3 separate regions of the Homo sapiens genome follow, and regions 2 and 3 are each linked to region 1. Evidence: fine-mapped expression QTL. A gene starts in region 1. Each other region holds a variant in brackets. All regions are shown on one strand. Distances are from middle to middle. Region 1 holds the start of LINC01948 (long intergenic non-protein coding RNA 1948). Region 2 overlaps LINC01948 (long intergenic non-protein coding RNA 1948). Region 3 has its middle 68 kb from the start of LINC01948.

Region 1 (8,184 bases):
CTAGGAGTTTGAGACCAGCCTGGCCAATATGGCAAAACCCCATCTTTACTAAAAATACACAAACTAGTTGGGCATGGTGGTGCACACCTGTAGTCCCACCTACTTGGGAGGCTGAGTACGAGAATTGCTTGAACCCAGAAGGTGGAGGTCACAGTGCCCCGAGATCACACCACTGCACTCCAGCTCCACAGAGTGAAACTCTGTCTCAAAAAAACCTTAATAATAATAATAATAAGGCTTATAAAAAATAACCTAGGGAATTCATTAATGATGAGCAAATGGAAGTGATTCAAATAACCCTTTTGTGGCCCTAAAATATCCTGATAGGTAGCTATTTTAGCACGTGTAACATTCCATTGTATTCTTTATTTCTTTATATCTCCACTATTCCAAAGCCTCTCCAGGGCAGGGAATTCTCTCTTTTACTGTAATGTCACAAAGTCTCCTCTATTACCTGTCCTATATAAATGTTGTTGAGTAAATGAAAAGTGAAGCCATAAATTAATGAGTGAAGGAGTAAGCAAGTAAACAAATACTCATTTGAAGGGAATATTTTTTGCATTAAACCAAAACAACTGTATCTTATACAAACTATTTCTAAAAAGATAGCATTTTCCTTATTTATTATGAACTATTGCCAACTTCCCTTCCCCTGTCTCTGAGAAATGCAAAGTCCCTGATTTAGAGTAATTTCTCAAGAGTTGTTTAGGGGTTGTCTTAGTCAGCTCAGGCTGCTATAACAGAATATATATTGTAGGCTGGATGGCTTCAACAACAGACATTTATTTCTCCCAGTTCTGCAGGCTGGGAAGTCCAGGAGCAAGGTGCCAGCAGATTCTGTTCCCGATGAGGGCCTTGGTCCTGGCTTGCAGATAGCTACCTTCTTGCTGCGTCCTCATGCAGGTGAAGGGAGAAAAGGCTCTAGTTTTGCTTTCTCTTCTTATAGAGACTAATCTCATCACGGAGCCCCACCCTCATGCCATCATCTAAACCTAATTACTCTCCAAAGACCCCCCTCTAAATTCCATCACATTGAAGGTTAGATTTTCAATATCTGAATCTTGGGAGGATGCAAACATTCAGTCCTTAGCAGGTGCTGGAAGTATTAACACAGTGCCCAAAAACGATAGAATATTTTTGGTAGGATGAATCCACTTTCAACCCTGGAAGCCAGGCATTTCAGAGTGGAAAAGAAAAGAGAAGCAATAACTGCACAAATAAGCATCTTATTAAGGAAATCACTAGGTTTTTGAGGGCTGCACATTCTATGCTTTCTAAAGGATGATGTCTCAGCAGGCGGAACGAAGCTAATCTTGCCTGGCTGCACTCTTCTGTTCTGGCAGGGGGCTGGTGCCGCTCCCTGCAGATGCCCACGATGCCAGGCAGCCTGGTTTAGTTTGTGGAACGTGCTCTAATCCGTCAGCACAGCCACAGTAGATACTCTGAAAACTAAGAGAATCACCTTCAGCAGCTTATCGACTAACCACAGGCCCTTATCTCAAATGGGAACTGATTCAAACCGTTATTCAAGCTTATTCAAATGAATTTGAGAGTCTACTAACAGCCCTGGCTACATAATTTGCCGGGTGCAGTTCAAACTGAAAATGCAGGGTCCTTTTCAAAAATTATTAAGCATGTCAACATGGTGTCAGTAGAGCATCCAACTAAGCACACGTCGGCTTCTGAGCACAGGTCACAGGCCCAAAAACCCAGCCATGCCAAGCAATGACTATCCAATAAGTCAAACACCAGGAAACCCCAACCCCTCCACAGCCCTGCGGCTGCTGCAGCAGAAAAACAAAAACAAAACAGACACTCAACACCATCAGCATCAGCTCTTCCCAAACCACCAGCCTTCCTCAGAACCTCCCTCATTTGACCTGTTTTAACTCGTGTTCCCTCGACCTTCAAATTTTCAGTGTCCACAAAGCAGATCAAGGCTATCACAAAACAAAACAAACACCAAAAAGCCAACCCACTGGATCTAGAGACCTACGGACTTGCCCTCCTGATACTTGCAGCTGGTGTTTAAGGACGTGCCTGCCTTGGGCGATGGGCGGGTAGAAACCTCACACACCAAAGCCCATCGAGCTAAACTCAAGGTTGCGAACCCCAACCCCGGTGGGAACACGGTCTGCAGACACGCTCCCTTAAGTCCCTGTCGCACACAATAAATTGCTTTCTGAATATTCCCTTTACAACTGCAAAAAATAGAAATGGCTGTAACTGTGCAGAGAAAGAAAAGAGAAGCTGGGATGAGCTCCATCAGGGGCCGAATCTGCTTCTCGCTGGTGGATACTGTGATAAGAAACCTAGATCTGAACGGCCTCACAATGGCCTATTTATCCGGCTCTTACGCACGGCCGGCAGCCCCGGCTGGGAATCACGGGGGTGGCAGCCGTCCCCGGAAAACGGCGGCATTCCGACACAGGAAAGCCCGCGGATCAACTGATCTGCAGACAACGCTTCTTCCTTCCTGGGAAGCGGCCACAAAGGCAGCCAGCTGACCCCGGCCCAGCGCGGCTCCCGGCCGAGGAGGACAGGGGCGGGGTGGGGAGGGGGGGAATCGTCGCCCGCCCCGCCCCCACCCCCCAAGTTTCCTTTGGCAAAAGCATCCCAGGCGTGGTTCAGGCAGAGTCCACGCCAGCGAGGCTGGGGCCGAAACTCTCCACGCCAGGAAGGCGGGGTAGGCGGACCCGCCGCCCCCAGCCCCGCGCGCCCGCCGCGCCCCCCACGGCCCCCACCAGCTGGCTCTTCCGGCCGGGGCGGCCTTGGCCTGGGGCTGGGGTTGACTTTGGTGGGGGGACAGGAAGGACTGGCACAGCGCCCGCGACTGTCCCCTGAGGAGGACCCTCCCTACGACTTTTGGTCAAAAGCAAAAAGAAACACAGACATGTGCGTCACCCCGGGAAGCGCGCGGGGGTTTCGCTCGCGTTTCAGGAGCCGACTTCGCATCCTCCCTCGGTAGGGGGGTCGGGGGTTCCTAAAATTTACCCCCCAACTTCACTTCTCTGGCGACAGAGCACCTTAACAGTTCATTTCCCTCTCGCTCTCAAGTGAAAACATCTTATTTTTGTGTTAAAATGTATAAAGACACCATGAGAATTGGCAGGAGGTCAAACCGTAGATTCTGAGATGCTCCGGTCGCTCCCCAGGAAGCGCTGTTTTCGGAAGTGTTGACCCAGCAGCTGGTCCCTGCTGCTCTAATGACACGATGTGTGCTTTCACTTTTTCACTCCCAAAACGACGTGGTTTGGAGTCTTGAGAGCCTTGGAAATCGCTGCCCGTGGAGGGAAAGGTCTGGAGAGGCCAGGCCAGGAGAGCAGACATGCTGCAAGAAGCGGAGGCAGCCCTGTGAACTCGCCTGGCTCCGCAGGGAGGGGCGAGGCTGTCCAGGTCGCAGGTGGAGCTGGCCAGCTGCGAGCCAGGATGTCCTTGCTCTTTCCAAATTATACACAGTTTCCACAAGGAAAAAAGAGAGGGGTAGGGGGTCCAGGCAGATCTTCAGCTGTTTGTATACTCTGCACCAGGAGGCGCTATCATCAGCCCGGACCCCTACTCCACAGGACTGAGGAGACCACAATTCTTCCCTCCAGGCAGAATCGTGGACCCAATATTCCCGTCTCCCCGAATTCTCTTAACTCAGTATACTGCCATTAACAGCATAGTCAGCCTTCTGGACTTGAACTCCAGAAGGAATTTTGTCTCATTTAGTGCCTGCAGGGGAGCAGGATGAGATAGTACCTCTTGTACCGGCACAAGGTCTCTGAGTTGACTCTTACATAAACATTGCGCTGTTTCTAGGGACGGCATCATTTCTTGACCTAGAGAAACAAAGATATTGTGGGAAGGACCCCTGATGCTCAGTGGCAGTTTGGAGACCTGGCATTAGCCTTACTCAGTAAGGCTTCCTGATCTAGCAGGACTGATCCAGTCAGCTTTGATGATCCCCTAGCCTGGTACTGGGATTCTTCCAAACACCCATGAGATCACCCACATCTCACAGGGGCTGGTAGTGTTCCAGCAGAGAAAGGTGAGGGTAGCAAGCAGTAGTCACTTTGGGCCTGAAATGAACATCTTGGGGTTTTTATATCTGCCCACCCACTATGGGACATTATTGTCCCTTCCTCTTTGCTACAGTGTTTCCAGAAAATGAGAAGTAGCATCTTCTTAGAAATAGATTGGGTACCCTGTCTTAGACCTAGTTCCTTTTTTTTTGTTTTTTTGAGACGCTGTCTCACTCTGTCTCCCAGGCTGGAGTACAGTGGTGCGATCTGGGCTCACTGCAACCTCCGCCTTGGGGGTTCAAGTAATTCTCCTGCCTCAGCCTCCTGAGTAGCTGGGAATCCAGGTGTGTGCCACCACACTCGGCTAATTTTTGTATTTTTAATAGAGACAGGGTTTCACCATATTGGCCAGGCTACCCTTGAACTCCTGACCTCAAGTGATTCGCCTGCCCCAGCCTCCCAAAGAGCTGGGCAGTTACTTTTATTATAGTTCTAGATAACATAGAAAAGAACATGGAAAGCAGCTATGCAAGCAAAACACAAACACAAACAACCCTGTTAAAAAGTGGGCAAAAGACATGAACAGACACTTCTCAAAAGAAGACATGCAAGCAGCCAACAAATGTGAAAAGATGCTCAGCATTGCTGATTATCAGAGAAATGCAAATCAAAACCACGATGAGATCTCACACCACTCAGAATGACTATTATTAAAAAGTCAAAAAAACAACAGATGCTGGCAAGGCTGTGGAGAAAAGGGAACACATATACATTGCTGGCATTGCTGGTGGGAATGTAAATTAATTCAGCCACTGGGGAAAGTAGTTTGGAGATTTCTCAAATAAAACAAAACTACCATTCGACCCAGCAGCAATCCCATTACTGGTACATATCTAAATGAAAAGAAATCGTTTTACCAAAAAGACATTCATTTTTATGTGCTTCACAGCATTATTCACAATAGCAAAGACATTGACTCAGCCTAGGTGTCCGTCAATGGAAGACTGGTACATATACACCATGGAATACTATGCAGCAATAAAAAAGAAGGAAATCATGTCCTTTGTAGCAACATGGATGCAGCTGGAAGCCACTATTCTAAGCAAATTAATGCAGGAGCAGAAAAACCAAACAGTGCATGTTCTCACTTATATATGGGAGCTACATATTAGGTACACATAGACATAAAGATGGCAACAATAGACACTGGGGGATACTAGAGGGAAGCAAGGGTTGAAAAATAACTATTGGCTACTATGCTCACTGCCTGGGTAACAGGATCATTTTACCCCAGACCTCAGCATCACATGTATATCACACAATATACCCATGTAACAAATCTGCACATGTACCCCTGAATCTAAAATAAAAGTTGAAATTATATATTTAAAAAAAAAAACAGGACAGAACATGAACTATGGTGACTATTTTCAAAGGAGGGAGACTTTGCATTTGCCAGGGTTCAGGTTTTATAATATATTCTTGATATCAATATATTTTAAAAGATATCTGGGTGAAGTTTAAAAATCCCCTGAACACACATTTAATAAGCTATCTCCGAAACCTATTGAGAAAGGCTGTTCTTTGCCTGCCCAGACTCTGCCTCTTCCATTCTGACTGTCCTCACAGCCAATGGGACAACCCGTAAGAATAATGAGCTCTGGCCACCCAGCCCCATCCATGGTCAATGCCTCTTGCGGAACCCATTGTCTTTGCCTTATAGGATTGCAGACCTGGCCTCCGACTCCTAATGGCTTGCTCTATTTCCTGCTTGCACTCTGCCTCTCTCCATCTAATGGCGGAGCCTCCCTGGCTCCAACCCCCTGTGCTTTCCCTTAATGTCCTGCTCTTCCAGACACTCCAGTAACTTCCTTGCCCAACCTGTTGGCTTCCATGGCAAGTGCTCCTGGAAAACCTGATCGGCCCCTGCTCCTCTAAAGGGGTTCTGACACACGCTCCCCTTCAAGTTGCTATAGGACATCAGACACCAAGATTGTGGGCAATTACTACCATAAATAAATGCACAAGAATACCACGGTTCTGTTTGAAGAAAGTGATTAGGATTCAAGACCGTCTACACATAACGGTCTATATAATGGCTTCTTGCTTAGACTTGGTCACTTCCAGAGTCTTCTGTCCACCTCTCTCCCATCCCCCTCCTGCTTCCCCATTAGTTTAGTAAAATGTGCTTTGCAGAGAGCCCAGTTAGTGCCTTCCTACAACTGAGGATTAATGAGGCAGCAGAGAGGTCCAGGCCCCCACTTATTGTCCCTCCCATCCACTGGGCAGTTCCTCCACTCCACTGAGTCAGGAAGGAGAAAATTCTAACCACCAGGACTATTTTTTTTTTTTAACATCAAAGTCCTGCTGAATGTAAAATGGTACCATTACTATGGAAAACAGTTTGGTGGTTCCTCAAAATGCTGAACATTGAATTACCATATGACCCTGAAATTCCACTCCTAGGTATATGCCCAAAAGAACTGAAAACATATTTAAACAAAAATCTGTACATCAATATTCATAACAGCACTGTTCACAGTAGCCAAAAAGTGGAAACAGCTCAATTGTCCATCAATGAGTGAATGGATTAATAAAATGTATGTACATACAATGGAATAGTATTCAGCCATGAAGAGGAATGAAGTATTGATACAAACTATAATCCAACATATATTATATATAAAATACAACATAAATGAACCTACAAAACATTAAGGTAAGTGAAAGAGGCTAACTAGTTGATCATAATAATGATGATAATGAGAATGATAACTTATGATAGTGAAGATGACTATGATGATGGAAGAAAGAGGCTTAAAGGGGGTCCCACAAGTCTAGACAATATAGCATCCCTAGATTCCCTGGAGCAGGACAATATTTCTGAGCAATCCTAAGCCTTGAGCCACTTTGACCCCACTGTTGGTGCAGCCTTGCCCAGATCAGGGTTGGTAAGTAACAGAATCCAAGTTTGTCCAGTATCAGAGCCAACAATAATTCAACTGCACCTCAGGCTCCCTAAAATGGCAGTAAAGTTTTACAATTATAGCTCTGGGATCACAGAACTTCTTAGACATATATATATAATGAGAACATTCACTAATACTGAGTGCTTCGTATATACCTGGCACTGTTCTATGTGATTTATATATGTTAAGTTGTTAATTCCCACTGAAGTCTTGTGAACTAGGCATTGTTATTAGTCTCATTTCATAGATGAAGAAACTGAGGAACAGAGAGATAACATTTGTGTCCAAGACCTTATAGCTGTCAGGCAGCAGCGTCTGGATTGACACCCAGAGAGAAGGCTGCCACCAGGCCTCTGAAAGAGCTTACTGGGCAGGCACCTGCGTGATTACTTCTGGCTCTTCTCCTCCCTTGTAGAATCCCAACATGCTTCTCTTTTGTTCTTTCAGGGAGACCATGTCCTCCAACATCTGGCCCGGCTACCTTTGGCACCAAAACTGTATACATACCCTAGAGCAGAGACTTACTGAGTTTCCTTGATGGTATTTTTGTGCTGTTTCCTACATCAGGATATAAATACAACAAAACAATAGCTTGTCTTTTCATTTGCCTTTGCTGTTGTCTGTGCGATGAGCTCTGGGTGAAAGGACACTGGGACAGTATACAAATAGCTTTGGCTCTGAAGGTAAAGGCTTTTCTTTGCCACTGCAGGAAGTTCAAAAGAGATTTGTTCTTTTTTTGGGGACTGGGTGAGAGAGACTGATTCACGATTTTATTTTATTAGCGAGTTCAAGAGGCCTGGGATATTCATCTTGCAATGCTGTTTTGCATTTGTCTTTCTCCTTCATTCTCCAGAAAACCAGTAACACTAGGCTATAAAGCCATGAAGCTTCCCAGTTGGTGAATTCGGGGTGCTGGGGACCTAGATAGGGAAGAAGTTACTAGTCTGAAGAGGGCCTAGATGTGGCTTCAGTAATACCTACTCTAATACTTTCCCCTCCCCATTTTACAGATGAGGGAATTCAGTCCCAAATGGCAAAGAGACAGTTACCTTCCTAGGTCGGTAGTAGATGCAGAACTTAAGCCCTGGCCAGTCCCCTAGTTCTATATTCAAAGTTTTTCCCTGCCATGGAACCTTCCTCTCCACTGCCCCTGAAAGAAGTAGAGCACTGTTAGAAGAGTCAATGGATGCCAGGCCTGGCAGAGGTCA
Region 2 (8,184 bases), 28 kb before region 1:
TTGTTGCCACTGGAAAGAAAGAGGGAAAAAATGTTAGCACGTCCATGGAATTTGCAAAGTTACCAAATAGTTTAATATCCAGGTAAATCAATGGCAGCTCAAAAATTCCATGATTGTGTAATCCTGCCTCAGCTTTTTAATATGAGAATATTTACCACTGAAGGAGTACCTTGATCCCCTCTGACCAGCTGTGAGCTTATTAGTCTAATTCCCAAGTAACTCTAATCAAACATGATCATTTAAAAAATCTTCAGTAGCTAATCTTCCTCTCATTCAATTAAAAATATCTGTCATCTTCTCGATGTGACATCCAAAGGCTGGGAGTCCCAAACCTTGCTAAAAGAGAAAAGACATTTTCCCTATATCATGTGCTGGGGTATTTCCAGGGCTTATAATGGTGAGAAAGAAATGCTCTCCTGTATCCTATGCCAGCCAGTAGCATTCTGTCCAAACAATTCCCACACACTCCCACCCAGATGAATTGTATTTAAAGAGAATAGATTTTCACCTGAACACTCTATCTGATTTAGAACTCTGCTTTTCTCCATGAATGCAGAGAGAAAGCTATAATTCTTCACAATCATGAGCATCTTTAGCCTTGGGAAGTATGTCAACGTGCTGGAAGAAGGTAGTTGCTTCTCAAAGGCTGCCATGTTAGAAATCCATATGGCCAATGTTTCTGCCATTGTTCCTTTCCTGCTGTGAGGAAAAGTGCCTATGTAGTCTCTGGCTACACGTGATTGTCCTGTGTGATACGATGCCATGATCTGGCCGTCTCTTACAGTACAGCTTTTCATTCCGAGATAGCCTGTCGTGCTGGCTGTTTTGGATGAAGCTTGGCATGAGCACAGAAAGTCCATACAGCCACCCACAACTTGATCTACTAGTTGTGAACGGAAACTTTTGAACACGTTCCACCAGCTGCACAATGGTACCATTTATTACTTTATTCTCAGGGGAAAACGTTTGCTGTGTGAATAATACCAGGGACTTATGTAAGCTTCTTCATTTTCAGGGAGCTTTATGGGTGTCAGCAAATTCACACAACACCCTGGTAAGGTAGCAAGGTATTGTTATGTCTTCTTTACAGGGAGAGAAACCAGATCACAGCATCGGATTTTCCCAAGGCCAAATGGACAATAAGTGGCATGGACTTATTTCCAGAGAGATCCATACTATTCTGCTGGAAAGCACAAAGAATTTCCCACTCACAGAAAGTCTCAGTGGGATTCAATCCTGGACTTAAAACTTGTGGATTAGTACCCTGACTTTTGATGTATCTCCTAAATGTTGCCTTACTTTGGGTTTTGTCCAGATAGGTAAAAAGAGCAAGATAAGGCAGGGGCACCCATCTAGGTGAGTGATGAAGATTTCAGTATCTCCCTTGCCACAGAGTAAATGTCTAATCTATAATCACAAGATCATGGGGGTTTGGGGGTGTGTGAGGGGATGTAAGTATCTATAAAGCCCCATGAGAAAAAAAAACTTGCAGTATAATATAGAACAGATTTGTTTATTTCAATTGCTGTTTAGGAGATTGAGAAAGGTTTCCCTATCAGCTCCAGGAACATACTAAATACCTGCTGTAGTGAGTTGAATTGTGGCCTCCAAAAAGATATGTCCAAGCCGTCAACCCCAGTACCTCTGACTGTGACCTTATGTAGCAAATGGGCCTTTGCAGATGTAATTAAGGAATGATCTTGGGATGAGATCATCTGGATTTAGGATAGGCTTAAATCCAACGACAGCAGTCCTTAAAAGAGAATGGCAGTGGGAGATCTGAGACACAGACATAAGGAGGGGGAAGACCAGGTGAAGACACGGGCAGGGACTGGAGTGATTCAGCTGTAAGCCAACGAACGCCACGGGTTGCCAGCAGCCACCTGAAGCCAGGAGGGCGTGGAATCGGTTTTCCCTCTGAGCCTCCAGAAGGAACTGATTCTGCCAGCACCTTGATTTCAGGCTTCTGGCCTCCAAAACTGTGAGAGAATTAATTTTTGTTGTATTTTAGGTCACCCAGTTTGTGGCTATTTGTTAGACTAGCCCCAGTAAACCCTCTTCAGCTCCTTCTTCCAGTCTTTAGAGTCATATGGACTTTAACCCAATTTAAAGCTGTATACACGCCATGCCAGACATTTCATTTTAATTGTTTTATTTTTGTAGAAATGGGGTCTTGCTCTGTTGTCCAGACCGGAGTGCAGTGATGTGATAATAGCTCACTGCAGCCTTGAACTCCAGGTCCAAGTGATCCTCCTGCCTCAGCCTCTCCAAATCTTTTAATTTGTGTGTGTGTGTGTGTGTGTATGACAGAAAGAGAAAGGGCATTCTAATTCGAAAGTGATTGAAAATTATTCTCCTGGATAACCATCATTAGTGAATGAAGAATTGGATTATCTTGACACATCTCACTGTGAAAGCAGAAGGGCATCTGGAAGGCAGAAGAAGTCAAGAAGACAGTGGAGTGAGTTCAAATTCTGATTGCAAAGCAACAATTTTCATACCTTCTCTTCTCTAGGCCACTGCACCAAGGAGCACACATGGAGCACAGAATAGCCTTTAAAAATAATAAGGTAATAATTACTAACACAAATTCATGACACGAAATTCAACTATTATTGAAATTCATAATATAGAAATGACAACCTCTAAAATACATATGGTACATATTCCTCTGATATTTTTATCCCTGCTCAACAATATAAATACACACACACACTCTTTCTCCCCCTAACATTTTAAAAATTGGAATGGAGAGTAGGTCTGCAGTCAGCCTGGTGCCTACTAATTTTTTGGAGCTAATTCAGCTTGACAGAAGCAATGTTTGCTGAGTGTGCCTGGGTGTAAGTCCTGTTTCTTGCAAGCCTTGGGTAAGGCACAAAACCTTCACAAAATACATCTGATATGAGATTACTTCTATGGTTAGAGAACAAGTTTGTCAAACCTTTTCTCTCAAAGACTCAGTAATAAATATTTTAGGCTCATGGGCCATAAGGTCTCCACTGCAACGACCCAACTCTCTGGTGTAGCGTGAAAGCAGCCACAGATCATGTGCACATGCATGTGCATTTGTGCTGTATTGTCAGTACACTGCTGCAGAACAGATTACCCCACACTCAGTCAATTAAAACAACACCCACTTATTATTTCTAGTTCTGTAGGTCAGAAGTCTGGGTGGACTTAGCTGAGCTGTTCACTTAGGTTTTACGCTGCTGACATGAAAGTATTGGCTGGCTGGGCTCTTATCTGGGGGCTTCCAAGCTCATTCAGGTTGTTGGAAGAATCCATCTCCTTGGGGTTGTAGGACTGAAGTCCTGGTTTCCCTGCTGCTTGTCATCAGGGCCACACTCAGGGCTCCTCTGGGCAGTTCATAGTACAGATGTTTGCTCTCTTCCTGGTCAGCTGTAGCATGTTTCTTTAACTTCTATTCTGCTACCAGCAAGAGAGAACCCTGTTGTAAATGGCTAGTATGATTAGGTTAGGCGCGCCTGGGTAATTTCCCTTTTGAAGAGCCCCCAAGTCAACTGATTAGTAATCTTAATGACATCTGCAAGAATTCCCTTTGCAATAAAATGTAACATAAATCACAGGAGTGATACTTCAGTACATTCAGAGGTTTCACTCACACTCAAAGGGAGGCGATTAAACAAGGATGAGCATCCCTGGGGGACATTTTAGAATTCTGCCCACCACAGCTGGGTTCTAATAGAGCTTTATTTATTGACACCAAAATTCAAATTGAATACAATGTTCTTGTGTAACAGAATAGTGTTCTTCTTTTGATTTCCTTCTTAATCATTTAAAAATGTAAAAATTCTTAACTATTGAGGCTGCACAGAAACAGGCAAAGGCCTGGATCTAGCCCATGGCCTGTGGTTTGCTGACCCCTGGGCTAGAAGATCAAGTAAACAAATCTTGAAAAAATACCAAAAGAGAAATTGTCATAGTGCCCCATCCAGTGCCTTGATCACAGTAGGTACTCAATGAATGAATGAACAGATACTGAGTTCCAGGAGAGACAGAAGACACATGCACCCCACATATCCTAGAGCTGAGTCTGCTGCTGTGGGTAAAATACAAACACTCCCATCTCTCCTTTTGAATGTGAGACCGGGCATAATCACAGGACGTTCAGGTGACCCAGAGCTCAGACTCCAGCGCCTTCCACATTTCCCTCAGGCTCCAAAGCAAAAGCACGGTATAATTACAAGGGCCATGTTGCAGTTTAGGTCAATCCAGCGCATGTTATCTGATAAATGAATTCCAAAGCCAAGCGAAACTCTCAGCAGTCTTTCCCCAAGATGCTGGGCTCAGCATCAGCGTTCAGTTCTCCTTAATTACAGGTTGGCTTGTTTTGTTGCGCAATAGTGCCCCAGCCCGGATGAATGTCATTTCCTTTCTTGGTAGGTGAAATGGATGAGGTGAGAAAGGCCCGGACCACACCGAGAATCGAATGCATGGTAAACATAGGGCCACGGGGAAGTCTTGACACCGCTCGGCAAGATCTCTCACCGATGGATCCACCCTCTATGTTTTCTGATTGGACACATTTCCTGAGATGGGAAGGATCATGCTATTGGCTGAGGCTGCATCAGGGGAGTAATATTTACTCTGGAAAATCTGGGAGAGGGTGTCCCAGTCTGTGAACTACCCAGACCCCCACGTTCACAGAATACTAGGATGAGGAGGATCCCAAGGAACACCTGCATCAACTCTCATGTTCTACAAGGGAAGAAGCCAGGTCTCAGGGACATTAAATCACTTTCCCAAATGTACCAAGCTAGTTAGAGTGAAGAAAGATCCTATTTATCCCAGTTCCCAGTGAAATGCCATTTCTGCTCCATACCTTCTCTTCTCCATGTGTCCTATGCTCTCGCACTTTTTGTGCT[G/A]CTTAGCGTTTTGCCCAGAGGTGTGCCAGAGATTATTGCTCATTCTTTCTCCTTCCACGGTCACAACACCTCCCTGGGCTGGTGTCACCTCTTACTTTGCAATTCAAAACGTTGAAGAAGGTGCGACCTGTCTAGATTTTCGTGTAGCCTTCTCTCCTGATTGCTGTTTCAGATAACACATTCAGGGTGTTGGTAAATAGCTGTGAATCAGAGCCTCGGGGACAGCCTGGTTTGGTGTGTGGATAGTCTGGCTAATGTCATAGCAGTCCCTGCCTTAAATATCAATGTCCGAGGAAGGTGGGATGCTGTTTCCAAAAGATTGATTTGCACTTCTGCTAATATATGGCTGAGTGTTCTTTAAAATGGAGTATTCTGCTTGCCCTCTGCCACCTTCACAACACCCTAAATCTTTGGAAGAACGTGCTTCTTGTTGGACCTACAAGTGGGGAGCATCTTGCCTTGTCCGGCCTGTCCCAGTTTCTCGGGAACCCTTGAGGTTTCTGTCCCTGTTCCACATACTTAGCCCCATCTCCAGGCTTCCTGTCCATCAGCCTGAGAGACCATACTCTAGGAGTCTTAAGTGCTGAGTTCCCTAGTGGGAACTCACTGGACTGCAACGCCCCAAGTCCCTCCTTCTCTCTCTGTGCCTTGGGATGGGCTTTGTGCCAGCTGTGCCCATCCTGCTGTTCTGCAGCTTGGTGCCCCTTCCTAACGTGATGGGCCTCTGCTAAGGTCATGTTCTTTCACCAACCCAGGGTCCTTCCAGCTCCTCCACCAAAACAGTGCCCTGGTTGTCCTCACTTGTCCCATCTTCAGCAGGGAGGCACTTGATTCTGTGGCATTTGGCACTGCTCACTGGGCTTTCTTTTCTTTTCACTGTAAGACTCATGCATTAGATCTGTCTTGCTATAGTCCTAACAATGTCTCTGTGTCCCCACTCCCATTCAACTCTTGCCATTCTCCAGCCATTGCTCTTGAAGAATGTGGGACTAATAACCCTGGGTAGGGTCACAAGGCCCTGCAGAGGTGATGCCATGAAGTTGCCTACACAGAACTGCCTCCCTGCTAAGAGTTCCAGGATCAAATTCTTCTAGGTGCCTGCTTGGGTGGGTCCTCATCCCCACCCCTGCCCAGGGCACCATCTGTGGGAGATTAGGAGGTAATCACTGTCTACCCCTCAGACACCACGTGCTGCATGACTGTGTCCTGAGGCAGCCACATGGCTGCCAGCTCTGAAGGTCCTGAGATCCCCATTCTGAGGCCCTTCGCTGACTCACTGCTCTCATTCTTCTTTCTCTGTCCACTCTCAGGGCAACTACATCCACACGGTGAAGGCAGGGCCTGTGTAGTGGATGCCAGGCTGTCTTCACGTACATTTCTCTTTCTCTTAAGCATCCTGGACCATAAAGCCCTAGTGTGCTGCTCCTACCTTGCCAGTAGGACTCCTGTCTCAGCTCCGTCTCCTGAAGACTGACCCTACAGGAGAGATACAAGCATCTCCTGTTACCTGTGCCCAGATGGTCCTTAAAAAATCATTTTCCTATTTGATAAACATAAAAATGTTATGTCTGACCAGCCAACAGGCTCTAGACCTGAGCCATCTAGGAAGATGAGGCCCCACCCCTAACTGGTGCCCTCTTTGCAGATTCACTGATGCAGATTCTTGTCAGCAGAGATAACTTGTCAAATTTTACTTTCATCAAGAGAAATATAATTAGAGTGATGTACTTTTCATTTCTAAATTATGAAATTCTATTATAATGTGAAATATGTATTTTCAAAGTATACATACATTTCCTTTTAGAAATGTTGATATACCTCCCTAGGAACTTTCCTTCCTTTTGTTAGAAAATCAATGCTGTAAAATGTTAGGGAACAAAAGAAAGGTATGGAGGAAGATCAACCTTGTGGGACCCAGGAAGAAGCAGGGAAGAAGAATCCCACTATGAAACTACCTTTCCAGGACAAATAATGTTCTCAGAAATGGGCATGTACTTTGTCTCCAGGCAGATAGCCTGCCCATTACATTTTTGTTTTGTTTTGTTTTGTTTTGTTTTGTTTGAGACGGAGTCTCACTCTGTCACCTAGGCTGGAGTACAGTGGCACGATCTCGGCTCACTGCAGCCTCCACCTCCTGGGTTCAAGCGATTCTCCTGCCTCAGCCTCCTGAGTAGCTGGGACTACAGGTGCCTGCCACCATGCCCAGCTAATTGTTGTATATATTTTTTAGTAGAGATGTGGTTTCACCATGTTGGCCAGGCTGGTCTCGAACTCTTGACTTCAAGTGATATGCCTACCTCGACCTCCCATTACGTTTTAAATAGCACAGCTCTCTGCTACGTTGTATATTTCCCAAATAAAAAGTTTTCAGCTCAATCTCTAGAAAAGCTCTGCTTTATCAACTTTCTGTTTCTCATGCCATGAGTTGACTATGACTCTCTCACGCACCTGCCAATCAGTTTTATCACTTGCCATTAGGAGGTCCTTGGGAAGCAATGGGAAAGCTCCCCAGTCCAGAGAAACTAACTTCAGGCATGTGTCTGAACTCAGAGGCTCCAACCAAGAGCAGGGAAGGGCCTTGTGGGAGGTGAGTGCATTTTGGATATGGGGAGCAAGGCTGGTGGGATTCTGCTAACGAAACTGATCACAGGTGACAGGGCTCTCCTTTGAACTTGATTATTTTTAAAGTTCACCTCTCCCTGATCCATAACGAGGTCTGGTGAGACTTGTCATAGTCCCAGAATTATTTCGATCATTCCAGCTCAGCCGAAACAATGAGAGAACATCAATATGGCAACTCCTCAGATGTCTGGGAAGAGGGATCATCACCCAGGCCTGGGAGCTCTGCGCAGTTTTGTCTGCCTTGGCTCCAAAGTGCTCTTTGCCCTTAACACTGCACCACTGTACAGATTCACACAGCTGGCACTAGCTCCACAGTGGCTAAGGTTGTGCTGCTTAGGACTGACCTGGAGGAGAGGGGAGAAAAAGATGGTATTAGTGGCTCCCTTTCATGTCAACAGGTTCACTGAAAAAGGAGCAAAGGGCTTAGTCATGTTTTAATGCTCTCAAAGCTTACTATGTATCCAGGATATTTTGGGTTATATTTAGTATTTGATTCACGTTTCAATTATTTTAGCAGTAGACAAAGCAAAAGCTGAGTGAGTCCCATGCAGTAAAATCCTAAAAGCTTTTCCCAACCTAAAGACAGCCCATAACTTTCAGCTTACATTTTACATGAGGAAAAACAAATGTTTCAGTGAAGCGTCCCAAATTCTTAGAAGAATCAGAGATAAGAAGC
Region 3 (8,184 bases), 68 kb before region 1:
GACAGAAAATGCCTCCACTTCCTGTTTCCCTTCACCCTGAACCCCTTGTGATGCTGTCCTTGGGATGAGGGGAGACCCTTACCCACTCCCCCAAGTCTTCTTCTCTGGGTAGCTGGTTCCTCTGTCACCCAAGAGGGCTAAAACGATGGACAGAAATATATCATATTGCTGTTTTTTTTTTTTTTGGTGGAGATTTGTTGGTTTTTAACTGCAAGATTATATTACTAACTCATGTTGGCTTGTTTGTTTAAAAAGGACAAACAAACTCATTCCTATGAGAAAGATTTTTCTAGTGTATGTTTCCCCTCTCATCTCTATAAAAATAGTTGTTCCCAAAACATATTTTTTTAAACTACTGAGAACAATAAAGCATCTAGATTTTCATTTTGTTATAGTATAATGGCCCAGGTGACTTTTCCCCTCAGACCTACTGTCCTGACCTGTTTGCTTCCTCAGTTTACACCACACTCTCTCCTTACTTCCTGACCCTTTAATTATATCCTCCTTTTAGCCCCCGTCTCATGACTACAGAGGGACTTGGGGAGATGGGCAGTCGGTGCTTGGCCAGAGGCAGAACTGAACCTGGCTTGCAGGTGGGTGCCCGCTCGCCTCCCAGCTTGCTGAGCATGGTGGGAAATGTGAGGAGGCCTGGAACCTGGCCTTGACTTCAAGGATCCTGAAACTTGGGTTAGGAAATGGTTTGTGCACACGTGAAGTTTCCCAACCATACATGACAGAATATGAGTGCTATAGAGGACACCAGCATAACAAGGGCATGCCATTGCCTGCCCGACTCCACATACTGTGTCTGGCAATCTTGTTGCCACTATTTCTCCATGTTTGGATCACATGTATTCAGTTTTTAGTGATTTTTAATTGAGGACCTACCTATGTACCCTATATTGTTCCAGGGGTCATGGGATGCATTTTATTGGCGACACCTTACCATTCAGCCTGCCTGGAAGTGTGCACAGGGCTGACTTCAACCAATTAAAATGTCAACTTTATAGAAATGAGCTTAAAGGATCAGGAGAAGTCCTCTTTACATCACTAAGTAACTGAATAATGTGCTTCCTCTGTGCCATTTTAAAAAATCATCATGCCTTCAATCCTAACATTGGAACTGTATTTTCAGACAGTCACGTGGACATTTTTACGCTTGCTGATTTTTATCTAATTTTAAATGATTTTGAAATATTTCCTCGGAGTATAGGTTCTTTCCTAGAAGTTTATAAGTGTGAGTTCTACGGTAAAATTGAGGGGAAAAAACCCATCATTTTAATTTAAAAAAACCAAACCTACAGATTTTTTGTTTTTTTTTAAAAGCATTTTCCTTGCATGAATTAGGAACATTTCAGACTCAATTATTTCTACTTTTTAAAAATTTTAAACTGATTTTTGGAATAAAGGGAACTAATCAGTGTTTTAGCCACATCTTTGCTTCAAGGCAATATAATTAATCAGATTGCTATTTTAAGTCAGCCTGGGTGCTGCGTTGCCAGCTTTATAGTTTGAGGGGCTTAGGAAATATTTTCTAAGGACTTTGTACATACATAATAATGTCAGACCAAAAGAAAAAAATCAATGCATGGGTTAAAAACCGCATATTTATCCCATTTTATATGGTGAAATTTGTCTATTATATCATTTAACAGAAAACCATGAAGCCTCTCACACTATTTTGGAGAGTATAGCATTGACTAAAGCGAGGTTGAAATGAATTAAAACTGAGAGACAGAGAGAGAGAGATTTAAAAATATTTTATTCATTAATTCATTCACTCACTTATTTGCTTATTCATTAAACATGACTAAGGGCTCATTAACACATTAGTAGGTGCTATAAAGCAGAGTATGACATTTCTCTCAAGCTCTTGAGATCCCTTTTAAGCTACCCTTCCTCCTTTCTCACATTCTGGCTGACTCTCCTTCTAGGATAAGTGGATCTCTACTGCAACTCTGCACAGCCACGCCTAACCTCCTCCAGACACTCTCTACCTCTATGCCTTTGCTTCATTATTTTTCTGCTCACTTGTCCAAACCTCATCCTTCTTTTCCTAATAGCTCAACTCAGGCCTAGCTTCAAAAAAATAAGCAATTTGTATTGAGCTCCAATATAGAGCTATGAGGGTTCTTATATATAAAGAAGTACAAGATGCAACCAGGACTGTACAAACCCTGCTATCCTGCTTAGGAGTTGTGAGCCATGCTTCAAGCTTAGAGGATGTTGGCAACATATGGCATGTGTGTAATACCAGACAACTGATTCCTACCATGAGTGCTATAGGAGGTTGTGGGATGGAAAACCACTGGAAGCTTCTTAGGAAACTGAGATTTAAAATTTGAAAATAAGATCTGGGTGGCTGTGAAAAAGGGACAAGACATTCCCAGTGGGTATGAAAAGCTACCAACTCCAAGAAGGCCCAACCCAGTGGGTACCAATTACTTGCCCCCTAATGCACACATCTTGAGTTTAAACTTTGTCTCACAAGCTTAACTTGTATGCAGGCTCTTTAGCAGTGGCTTAAAAAAACAAAGGTGGGGCAGTGTTTCTGGTTTTTCTATTTTTCTCCATCCTATTTTATTTTAAGCTCCTCATAAAGAGACTCATATCTGATCTCTAGTTCAAGTTGTCCGGGTGTGCCCTGCCTCGTAGACAGACTGTGAAAGAATTAGCAGATTATAAGAATTTAAGCCCTTGTGGATATATCTGTGACAATGAGGCCAGGTGCTGGTGTGAACTGAAAAAGAAAGAGATGAGAGAGACCTGTCACTGGGCTTTGTCCACAAAAAGTGTGCGAAAAAATACGAAATCATTAAGTATTGATTTATACTGGTTATACTGCAGTATGAATGCAACCATAAAATCCAGGGGAACAGTGAAACAAAGCCAAAATATGAGTGAGGATAAGCATGGTAATTCAGAGGAAGTAGGCTGCTTGGGTCCCCGGTGGTGGGGAAATGAGTGGATGGGAGAAGCACTGGGTTGAGGAGGGTGCTGGGTGAGGCTGGGGCTTCTCTGGCTGCAAATGACGTGAGCACTGTCATGTCAGGAGACCTGAGACAGCAGCAAACTGTGAGAGGGGCTGGGCTCAGCTTGCTGTTTAGTTTCACATCCGCTGACTTTAAGTATTAATATCTGCATTTAGGCAGTAACTGTGAAGTAAGGGAATTCTTGATCAAGCTTTCCTATTTATGTTGTCCTTATCCCGACTCTCTCCCGTGACAATACAAATGCCAGCTAAGCCAGATTAATAAAGATGGGAACACTGGACTCTTCCTGGAGAATTCTGGGTTTTTCTGCATGTTTTTCTAAGATCCATTAAGAAGAGTTATCCAAATCTTGAAAATAAAGAAAAAAGATGAATGCATACCTTTTAATCTGCTTGCCCAAAAGTCATCTGATATTCTAGGGGGAGGTAACATTGTGTGTCTTACTAATTAGGACCCAGACTCTGTAAAGTTTGATGTTATCCCATAGAAAATGTTACATTGCTAAAGACATCTGTCCAGAAAAAAAAAGGGTAACCCCGATGGTTATGGCTTTATTGCCCTGTAGGACATTAACCAGTTTGGTGTCTAACTTTGCACTCTTATTTCAGAATTACTTCCAATGACTATCCACGTGATGGTTGTCATACTCTTCTTTATTCCAGCTTTGTCATTCTGCTTCTTCTCTCGTTGAGTTAAATAAATCTTTGACATCTGCTCACTATATGTTTTATGAGAGTTAAGTTTTTAACTTAAAAATAATTATACTTTGACA[A/C]ATCTTAGAAGTCGACTTGGTGTAATAGGTTTAATTTGCTGATTAACAAAGATGGCTTATGATGTATCTTTGTTAATATTAAGAACCTGAAAATCTTGCAATTAGCATTCATAATTTTATACAGTGTATTTTATACACTTCTCTGCATAAGAACACTGATAAGAAATAACTAAGAGGAACCGGCATTTTGTAAACCATTGAGTGAGTTTTGAATAAGGTTAGCGACAGAACCAAATAATTTTTTAATTTGCAAGAAATGTTCTGCTACTCTGCAGAACTGTTCTTCCCTGCACCCATCTAATTGTGAAATTCTTGCAAGGCTTCAAGTCAGGAAGCATTTCAAATAGAAAGAGGAACTTTAAAAAATGTGCCCCTGGGGAAAGATTTTCCCCCTTCTCCTCCCCGAAAAGGACTCATAATTCATTTCAGCTGCTTTGTATTTTCATGGCATCATTTTTTTAAATAGCAATAGAAAATTGAGACTTTATGGGAGAGGCATCAAATATAGGGCTAAATGTTATTTTGTCTTGGTAAGGCCTAGCACAGGATTTTATTAGCTGCTGATATTTTGTGGGAATCCTGAAATATCTAAATTAATTGTCTTCTTTAAACATTTTTTTTTTTTTCTGAGACAGGGTCTTGCTCTGTCTTCCAAGCTGGAGTGCAGTGGTGTGATCATGGCTTACTGCAGCTTTGACCTCCTAGGCTCAGATGATCCTCTGGCCTCAGTCTCCTGAGTAGCTGGGACCAGAGGCATGCACCATTACACTCAGCTACATTTTAAAATATTTTTTGTAGAAACATGTTTTTGCTATGTTGCCCAGGCTGATTTTGAACTCCTGAGCTAAAGCAATCCTACCACCTAGGATTTTCAAAGTGCTGGGATTACAGGCATGAGCCACTATGCCACCGCGCCAGTACATGGATCTCTGTACTTGCCTGGGCAAGGGGGTGAGAATCTGTCTCTACAAAAAAAGTTTTTAAAAATTAGCTGGATGCAGTAGCACACACCTGTAGTTCCAACTACTCAGGAGGCTGAGGAAGGAGGATCCCTACAGCCCAGGAGCTCGAGGCTACAGTGAGCTATGATTATGCCACTGCACTCTAGCCTGAGCCACAGAGCAAGACCCTGTTTCTAAAAAAAAAAAAAAGATATTGGGGTCAACCATCACTCCTAGTCTCTCCATGCATGAGAAACTTCACCTCTAATATAACTCCTTATAGTAGGTTCTCCGACACAAAGTAGTTCTTCAGTAAAGAAAGCCAGTTGCCTTTGCCCCGTGGCTGTCTCACTATGGACCTTTGCCGCCTGTGCTATCCGAAATCCTCTGATGCTCTTTAGTCACTCTGGTTTAGCCTCCTGCTATTAAGGCTGACTGTCCCCAAACCCACAGTAATGAAATATTGGTCATTAATATATTGTTAAGTCGTGGCAGCCCCTGCATCAATATTAAATAATTATGGTGTGCTTGAGTGCTTACCATGTCCTAGGTCGCTGACAGGGTATGATCGACCAATAAGACTGAGACAGGAACTACAGCCATCACCCCATTTCCCATGACAAACAGCAGGGCTCTGAGACTGATGAAACTTGCCCCCAGGAGAAAAGAGGAAGCAGCAATTGGGCCACGCCTCTCTACAGAGTTCTTCCAGTTGTTGACTCTAAACTTCTCACCCCCAAGAAAGTTTCACAGAGAAGTAGATTGCACAGTCTTAACACCAGCCTGAGCCTTGGGTCCAGCTTCTTATCTGCAGTCCAGTCTACTTCTCAGGAATGTCTTTCTAGGCCATTGTTTACATTATTTCAAAACCAAGGAGCTATGAAATTTCTGAGAGTCCTAAGCCTGGAACCTAAAGATTGCAATTCAAGGCCAGAATTTGCCTTGTTGTCACTGTCAACTCACTCTTCTCTTTATTATCTGCTAGCTTTGAGGGCTTTTGAATTCTTAAGACACATCTTAACTCTTTTCTTGGAGCTTTTAACATTTTCAGATTTTTAAAAATAGTTTTGTTCTTTCTTTGTCCTTAGATATCTAGTAATGCTTTCTCAGACTCGGTCAAGTTAACTCTTCTGGGATTTCATTGTTTTAACTGGCACACTGTGGGAGGTCAGTGTGTGTGTGTGTGTGTGTGTGTGTGTGTGTGTGTGTGTGTGTATGTATAAAACAGACATCAAAGGTTTCAGGAATTATTGGTCCTGTCAAAATTCTGAGTAGCTCAGCTCATATTTACTCATGCACCTTACTCTTCCAGCTCGTCTGCACTTCTTCCTTCTGGTTCTTATGTTGGCAGGTGTATTAGTAAGGGTTCCCTGGAGGGACATAACTAATAGGATATTATATATATAAAGGGGAGTTTATTAAGTATTAACTAACATGATCATAAGGTCCCACAATAGGCTATTTGCAAGCTTGAGGAGCAAGGAGGGCCAGTCCCAGTCTCAAAACTGAAGAACTTGGAGTCCAGTGTTTGATGGCAGGAAGCATCCAGCACGGGAGAAAGATGTAGGCTGGGAGGCTAGGCCAGTCTTGCCTTTTCACGTTTTTCTGTCTGCTTAGCCAGACAGAAAATTAGCCAGCAGCTGATTAGATTGTGACCACCAGATTAAGGGTGGGTCTGCCTTCCCCAGTCCACTGACTCAAATGTTAATCTCCTTTGGCAACACCCTCGTAGACACACCCAGGATCAATACTTTGCATTCTTCAATCCAATCAAGTTGACATTCAGTATTAACCATCACAGCAGGGCAAGAGAACACACAACATGATATTATCACAATATTTTTACCACAGCAAACTTAAGGTACCCCATCCACACAGATGCCTGTCAAAATAAAACAGAAAAGGGAATAGGAAGCAGGGGATGAGGAGTTAATTTCTTTTAGACTTGCTGCTTGAACTTATTCAGACTCCTCTTAGATCTGGAGCTGACATTTTTGTGACATTCTTTTCTCATAGACCATTTTTTCTACTGAGAGCTGACTTGGAGTCAAGAAAGGAAGAACAAACTAGTACTTAAATGAAATAGGATACATTTGAATAGGTCTTTTAATTTTTCCAAGTATTTAATCTCTGTTAGCTATATTCTTGTGGCGTCCATATGAAGAGATAAGTAGCAAATTTTAAAGAATTTCTACTGAAGTTAGAAAACTGAGTTCATCTAATCTTTTTATGCATCTCTATAATTTAGGAGATTGATGCTCAGAAATGATTATAATTGTTCTAGTGGAGGTGCCAGCTACTGTGCCCATAGAAGGATCTATCTGTAACTAAATTCCTTGGTATGGCCACGAATGGTAAATCTCACCTTTCTTGAGGCCCCTCTTAGCATCAGTTTCCCTGAGCTTCCCTGCCTTTCTCACCTTTCTTCCTTTGTCAAAATAAGATGATATTTTTCTAGATCCATTTATTCATCCAACTAAATATCTCCTCTGAGATGCCTATGTAACCTGTACAACAAAAAGAGCATATTGAATGAGCCCGATGAATGAGGCATCTGAAATCCTACAATTAAAAAAAAAAAGGAAGAAAAAATTAGAAGTATCTTTCCTAAAAGAAAGTCAGACATAAAAGTTGTGGTTTTTTGTTTTGTTTTTTGTTGTTGTTGTTGTTGTTTGTTTGTTTAACCTGTCCTGAAATGTTGGCAAGGTCCTATATCATAAAGTCTCTGCTTGATACATAAAATGTTTGGAGCAATCGGAATTGGTTTCGATTTTTCTCAGGGGATTATGACCCCAAGAAAGTAGGAAAACCTCTGCTGTGTATATTTACTCTCGATGAAACTCCATTTCCATATCCTGTCTTCCTATGCCCTATTCCATCTCAGTTTATTATTCAAATTCTGCCTGCTTTCATTCATTCAACAAAAATTGTTGAGTGGATATTACATGCTAGAAAGTGTTTGATATGTTCCCAACCATCTGAGCTGGCCATTCTTCCACTGGGTAAGAGGAACTCAGGAGTCTGAAACCCCTTGGAGGTAAAATTAAGGAAAAAAGATCAGAAAATACGTTTTTGAATAATAAAGTTGTTTTTTTTTTTACAAATGTTTTGTGGTTGTTTCAAAATGTCTTCATATTTACTTAGCATTTTCATAGATTACAAAGGAACTTCATAAATACTCTAACTACAACGTCCACTCCTAGGGTGTGGATAGTTTCAGTAGCCTTCCTCACTATGAGCTTGAGTGTAGAGACTGTGTTTTATTATGTTTATGTCTCTAGAATTTGGCCCGGGGTCAAGTAGGGATTAGGCTCTCACTAAGTAATTTTTAAATGAACGTCTTCATATTACATGTATATAAGTTATTTCCTATGCTGGTTTGTAATTGGAGGCTCTTTGCACTATCTCCTTTCCAGGTGCACAGCATTGTTCTCATCAGACAATGCATTTGGCTGAATTTTACCCAGGAAAAATGTTA

What was found.
Region 2: its variant is fine-mapped to the expression of LINC01948 in whole blood (INTERVAL, PIP above 0.99). The same link has a PIP of 0.9 or more in unexposed skin.
Region 3: its variant is fine-mapped to the expression of LINC01948 in whole blood (INTERVAL, PIP above 0.99).

Annotation. Positions count from the first base shown.
Region 1 is chr5:56,478,431-56,486,614 of GRCh38, forward strand. LINC01948 (long intergenic non-protein coding RNA 1948) reads right to left here and starts at 3,339. Exons shown (of 5, transcript NR_104664.1): 1 at 3,123-3,339. RefSeq lists enhancers at 1,738-1,907, 3,108-3,267.
Region 2 is chr5:56,450,092-56,458,275 of GRCh38, forward strand. It overlaps LINC01948 (long intergenic non-protein coding RNA 1948), which reads right to left. Exons shown (of 5, transcript NR_104664.1): 5 at 7,704-7,852. Among named protein-coding and RNA genes, the nearest start is that of LINC01948, 28 kb to the right of the region's middle. The variant G/A (reference allele first, on the strand shown) is at 4,887.
Region 3 is chr5:56,410,145-56,418,328 of GRCh38, forward strand. No RefSeq gene overlaps it. Among named protein-coding and RNA genes, the nearest start is that of LINC01948, 68 kb to the right of the region's middle. RefSeq lists an enhancer at 5,191-5,240. The variant A/C (reference allele first, on the strand shown) is at 3,766.